Homo sapiens: one gene and its partner. The protein of the gene in region 1 interacts with the protein of each later gene in a biochemical or structural test. Each region holds a gene or a part of one and is shown in the gene's direction. Other genes may lie near its edges.

Region 1 (2,536 bases):
TCGCTATTTTTTTTTTTTTTTTTTTTTTTAGAGCTGTGGTCTTGCTGTGTTGCCTAGGCTGGTCTCGAACCCCTGGGCTCAAGTGATTATCTCACCTTGGCCTCCCAAAGTGCTGACCTAAACTGGCCCAGTCTGGGTCCAGTTTAGGGAGGAAGAAACAGGCATTGGTGTCAAGCGCATGCCACTTTGTTTTGCCTTAAACAGAGCAGCTCTGTTAGGAGGGATTATCATCTGCAAGATGAGGAAACTGACACCCCCAGAGAGCGGGTTGGAGAGCCCAGTTAACAGCCCCCTGCCCGTGCTCCGGGGCCCCGCTGACCCGCCGGCCGTGTCTCCGCAGGTGCAGCTCCAGGGAGACCCCTTCGGGCTGCCCAGCTTCTCGCCGCCGCGGCTGCCGGTGGCCGGCCTGAGCGCCCCGGCTCCGAGCCACGCGGGGCTGCCAGTGCACGAGCGGCTGCGGCTGGACGCGGCGGCGCTGGCCGCGCTGCCCCCGCTGCTGGACGCAGTGTGTCGCCGCCAGGCCGAGCTGAACCCGCGCGCGCCGCGCCTGCTGCGCCGCCTGGAGGACGCGGCGCGCCAGGCCCGGGCCCTGGGCGCCGCCGTGGAGGCCTTGCTGGCCGCGCTGGGCGCCGCCAACCGCGGGCCCCGGGCCGAGCCCCCCGCCGCCACCGCCTCAGCCGCCTCCGCCACCGGGGTCTTCCCCGCCAAGGTGCTGGGGCTCCGCGTTTGCGGCCTCTACCGCGAGTGGCTGAGCCGCACCGAGGGCGACCTGGGCCAGCTGCTGCCCGGGGGCTCGGCCTGAGCGCCGCGGGGCAGCTCGCCCCGCCTCCTCCCGCTGGGTTCCGTCTCTCCTTCCGCTTCTTTGTCTTTCTCTGCCGCTGTCGGTGTCTGTCTGTCTGCTCTTAGCTGTCTCCATTGCCTCGGCCTTCTTTGCTTTTTGTGGGGGAGAGGGGAGGGGACGGGCAGGGTCTCTGTCGCCCAGGCTGGGGTGCAGTGGCGCGATCCCAGCACTGCAGCCTCAACCTCCTGGGCTCAAGCCATCCTTCCGCCTCAGCTTCCCCAGCAGCTGGGACTACAGGCACGCGCCACCACAGCCGGCTAATTTTTTATTTAATTTTTTGTAGAGACGAGGTTTCGCCATGTTGCCCAGGCTGGTCTTGAACTCCGGGGCTCAAGCGATCCTCCCGCTTCAGCCTCCCTAAGTGCTGGGATTGCAGGCGTGAGCCACTTTCCCAGCCTCTCTTTGCTTTGCCTGCCCCGTTCTCTTAACTCTTGGACCCTCCTCGTCTGCATGGTAACTCCGTCTGAGTCTACCATTTTCTTGCTCTCCCTCCTTCCTTGGGCCTGCCTCAGTTCCCTTTGGCCTCCCCCTTTACCCAGCTCTTGGGGTGTCTCTGTTTTTTCCATCCCCACTTCCTGCCTTCTCGTGGCCCTGTGTGAGCACATGTGTACATCTCAGCCTTATCTCAAGGAGGTGACACCTTCTCTCCTTGTCCCCATCTGGCTGTCTCTCTGTGCTTCCCTGGCCAGGGGCGTGCCTGCTGGTCCTATGGGGGGAAGGCTACTCTGCATCTCAGCCACCTTCCTCAGGCTCACTCCACCTACATCCCCAGTCTGCCACACCCCATCCCTTTGGGCCTCAGCCCTGTCCCTTTGATGTCCTCCTTTCCTTCAGCCCCTCTGCCCTGTCCCTGCACACCTCCACTGCCTCCCAGCAGATCTGTGGAGACAAAACAAGCAACACCTTAAAAGAGTTTTATTTCTGAAAATAAATTAATTTTTTGTAAATAAAATGTTTAAAAATAAAAAAGAAACTAAAGTTACTTGTATATATAGTTGTTGAAAATGGGGAGACAGCTTTAGGGAGAAAAGGACCCTTGGGATGCAGCCTAGTCCCCCAGACATGCCCAAGAAGCCCAGCAGTATAAATAGGAGGCTGACAGCCCCTGGCCAGTGGTGCCCTCTGCCAGCCCAGAACAGGAAGTGGATGTGTCCTAACAGGAAACAGATGTGATGCAGTCCTTAGTTCTTCAAGAATTGGGCTTCCATGGATCAGGAAGTGGAGCCCCTGAGGACAGGAAGTGGAACAGTAGCCCCAGAGAGACAGGCCAAGGAGGGGAGCCAATGAACTTCAGCAGGAAGAAGGAAGCCTATCCGCTTAGAAAGGCGGGCTCTTCATACAGCGAATGAGGCAGACAGAGACAGGAAGGCAGCCCCAACCGTCCCAAAATTACAAAAAAGGGAAGGTCTCAGGGAGAGCCTAGGAAGGGGACCAACTGTCCTCTCCCTGTAGAGTGACAGGTGAAGCCTCTTTGGAGAGGTGCATCTTTCCAACCAGGAAGTGGACACCCAGTACCACTGGATGGGTAACCCATGGAATGGCATCCATGGAGGTTGACCCAGACCTAGAACGCAGGCCAGAGGACCTGGGCCGGAAGGCCCTGAAATAAGGAAATTGAGGCCTGGCTCCCAGGAAATATTCCCATACATGGCACCCAAGCCCCATCTGCTAGATGAGGTTTATCTCCTTTTCTAG
Region 2 (3,819 bases), on another chromosome or scaffold:
TGATGCGTTCCTGAGTGTATAAAACTGAGAAAGTCCACAGTCCTGTAAGAAGTGCACCCCTGCTGTGTACCACCGAGTGTTAAGGAGGTTTCTGTTCACAGGTTCCTGGTGCATCGATACTCTGTGCTGCAGCAGCATGCAGAGGCCAATGGTGTGGATGGTGTGGATGCTTTGGACACAGCCTCCCACACTAATAAAAGTGGTTATCATGATGACTCAGATGAGGTGAGGCTATTTCTTCTTGAATGGTAGTACCCCCCCCCCCAAAAAATACAAGAAAATAAAGTCTGTCTTCTATTCATGATCAAGATATGCCAGGGCCAAGGCGACTTAATGACCATAAGATTTGGCAAGCCCAGAAACTAGGTGATTGCTTTTGAAATAGGAGTGTTGTGGTCTGTCGGTAATATGGTGCATGTCTTTTTCAGGACCTCTTGGAATAGCTCTTCAGAGGAGCTGGACCCAGCATGGATGGTGGAACCACAGTACCTCTTACACTCCCTGTGGCTCCAACTTCAGGAAATAAATTTCCCATTGCGAGGGACCCAGCTCTGTTTCTGCTGCTTCCATCAAAGCCAAAAGGACCTACACTAAAGAAATGCAGGGTGGGGGTGGGGAACCCTGAGCACTTTTTTACAATTGGCTCTGAGAAAAAGGGAGACATTTTAAATTCTTTAACTTCTTATTTCTCGTCCTGTCTCTTTGCAAAGTATGGGCTTTTTTGTTTTTGTTTTTTAAGGGAAACGAAATGGAATTCGAAGGGACCTTTTCACTAACCCCACTTCTGTGTGTTCTGCATGGCGCCTGCCCCAGGGCATCTGCCAACTCCAGTATCAGCTCTCACAGTGTACTTGGTACCATCCCTGGGCTCTGCTGGCGAGACGAAACAGCTGTAGAGATGAAAACAGGCTGCAGAGGCTGGCACAGCCTGGCCGGCTTTTCTCCATCTGGGGACAGTCCTACTCCAAGAACACTGCACACCAGCTCCTCACACAGATCCCACTTACTCTTTTTTTTTTTTTCAGAGACCACAGACCACAGTGATTTTTCTTTTCCCTTGTTTAATTAGGCAATACCCTTGTTAATTGCCCTTTGGCAACTAACTTAACCATGTGCTTCCCACACAGTACATCAGGAAAACTTACAGGGCAATATTTTTAACTTGGGGCAGGAAGAAGGGAGCAGCAGAGAATTGACTAGATATAGCACCTATTAAAAGAGAACTCTTGCTTCTTCTGAGATTTTTCAAGCTGTGCTTTGTGTGTGTGCCAGTAGACTTACGCAAGGACAGGGTACAAACTTAGCTGGAAGTCTGCCCAGGCTGAATGATCTCTTCCCTAGAGTTGATTGTCGGGTACACAGTGTGAACCCCCGAAGACGGAACCTCACAGTCTTCCATGTTCCCTTCTTAACTGTCGTGTGGCTCGTTGCTAAATCATGACAATGGCTGCCTATCTGCTGCTTCTTAGGTTGCTGTTGTACATGGAACCAGGACTAGAGATTTTTTCAGATTTATAGACTTAAAAAATTAGAATTTTATTACCAGGCTTTCCTTCTCACCCCTTTTTTCTGACTTTGCCAAGTAATTTGTTGACACGAAAATTTTGGAGGAACCAATTGAAAACACACTTCCAGTCTAGATGATGCTTTGTGTGATACATTAAGTTCTTATTTTGGATTAAAAGAAGTTTTCCATTTGATACCTCTCTAAATTAAATAAATTATAGAATGTAGTTGGGTGGATTTTGGGGTGGCCATATAGTAATGGAAAGCTGCAATAATTAGTTTTAATACAGCTTGAATATTTGCTATATAGAAATATAGTATGGAAAGTTTTTGGTCTTAATGTAGCTACTGTGCGGGTCACAGTTTCTCCCAATGATTATGACTGGGACATTCTTTGGTAGATACCATTTGCTACTAGTTTATTTTGTGGCTAGAAAGTCAGTTTTGTGTGTTTTTTTTTTTTTTTATTTGAAGTGCCAAATTAACTTTAGTCAGAATGTGAGCAGATGGCTAAGTTCTCTCCTCCCCAGAATGGATTAACAGCTGCGTGGAAAGTGGGGGAGAGAGTGGATGGAGACTTTTAGAGATGTTAAAACTGCAGTAGAATGAAATGAGTCAGGGAGCTTCAGTTAGAAAATAAAGTTGAGGCAGTTTTTGTGAAGATAATATGGTTAGGGCTGGAGTGCACTAGTCTTTTTGCTTATTCATTTTGCATGGTTTTAAAATTAAAAATAATTCCGAAGATACACCAGCTCACAAATGAAAACGTCAGCCTCTGCCCCACCCTCCCTCCTGCCCAAAGTGAATTTGGTACTCAGAAAAGAACTGTTTATACCACTCACCTTTCTCCCAGCATGTACTCACTGTGGGCAGATGCACCAATACATGGTAATCCTCTTACTCATTTTAAGACGTAGGAAACTCAATATTCTTCTCTAACCATATACGATAGGGCTCTTCGCTTTTAATGATATCTGGGATTTCTGTGGAACTTGGCAAATTTTCAGAGCACCTTCACTCACATAATGTCATTTGAACCTCACAATGTTCTTGGGATGGAGTCAGTTGTTCAGGGTCCCCGTGTGTGTGATAAGCAGTGCTGGCTGGCTGTCTTCAGAACTCTTGGAAATCTTTACACATGCGAGTGCTAACCACTTTGAGCAAGGCTGCCTTCTTGTAGATGACTTGCTGTTCTTTATGACAGGGATCAGTGGCATTTGTTTCCTAGCAGTATTTAGCACCTTTTTGCCACCTTGGTGAACAGAAAATTGTATTTTCCTGTCTTTCATGGCTGAAAACAAAAGTAATGGGAATTTTAAATACGTTTGCAGAAACTGCCCCTCCCCTCATTGAGGGTCACTGCTCAAGAGTGCAGGAGTGGACTCTCCACTGATGGGTCTCCCTCCCCATCCTGGTTTCCACCCCGGGCTGGCTAGCTCTGTTGGTTTGAAGACTGACAGCCAGCCTGGCTCATTCTCATTATTGGCTAGTTAGCTTTCTTTATCAACCTGCTCACTCACAAATGTGTGCCCTCAGCCAGAGAGTAAGAAAGCCCAAATCTGTTACAGCTTCTAAAAAAATAGATTTCTAATTTGTCCTACTCATGTTAGGAGCATTATCTTTGAAGGTAAAACATAGTGTATCATTGTGTAAACTCCCAGGCTTGATGTAGCAGAAGAGATCATTTCTGGAGGCTTCAGCAATGGAATTTAGCATTATAAGAGAGATTGGACAAACCAGTCCAAAGTGGTCCGAGTTCTTAAATCCAGGTAGGGAACTCACTCTTCTTTCTTCTCTGGACCTAATTGGGCATTGGGCTTTAGTGAGACCACAGACCAGGCCCGTCTCTCCTGTAGGCTTTTAATTCAATGGCAACTCTATTTCAAAGAATAAAAGCCTTTGGAGAGTTGCGGCAGTTCTGGGGGCGGGCTCAGGAGAGTCCATAGATCAGCCGTAACTGGAACGTAGAATCTACGTCTGCCTCTGAATGGACTTCCCACCTCCTCTCTCTTGCTCTGATGCTTGCCTCTGGGCCTCTCCATGCCCAAGGTGGTCTTTCATCCTTGACAGGCTGGTAATGTGCTGGCCACCTCCAGCTCCTGCATCGAGTCTGTAAACCAGAGCTGGTTCTCATGGCCTTCGTCACGATACCAGGATACGGAGGGGAGCCCAGGGCCATCCATACCCACCCCAGGGTAACGGGGCTGGCCTGGCATTAGTCATTATTTAGTTTCCAGGCCAACCATCCAGATAGAGATTCCCTCTTTCCTTTGAGCAGTGCTCTCAAGAGCTCCGTGCCTGTCCACAATGACC

Evidence for each region.
Region 2: the proteins of CTF1 (region 1) and SORT1 interact in a biophysical measurement, tested with the Homo sapiens proteins (one study listed by IntAct).

What each region holds. Positions count from the first base shown.
Region 1 is NC_000016.10:30,901,738-30,904,273, forward strand, and holds the end of CTF1 (cardiotrophin-1), read left to right. Parts: intron 1-340; coding exon 341-802; 3' UTR 803-1,810; downstream 1,811-2,536. UniProt on the Homo sapiens protein: Induces cardiac myocyte hypertrophy in vitro. Binds to and activates the ILST/gp130 receptor.
Region 2 is NC_000001.11:109,310,667-109,314,485, reverse strand, and holds part of SORT1 (sortilin isoform 1 preproprotein), read left to right. Parts: intron 1-101; coding exon 102-225; intron 226-428; coding exon 429-443; 3' UTR 444-3,819.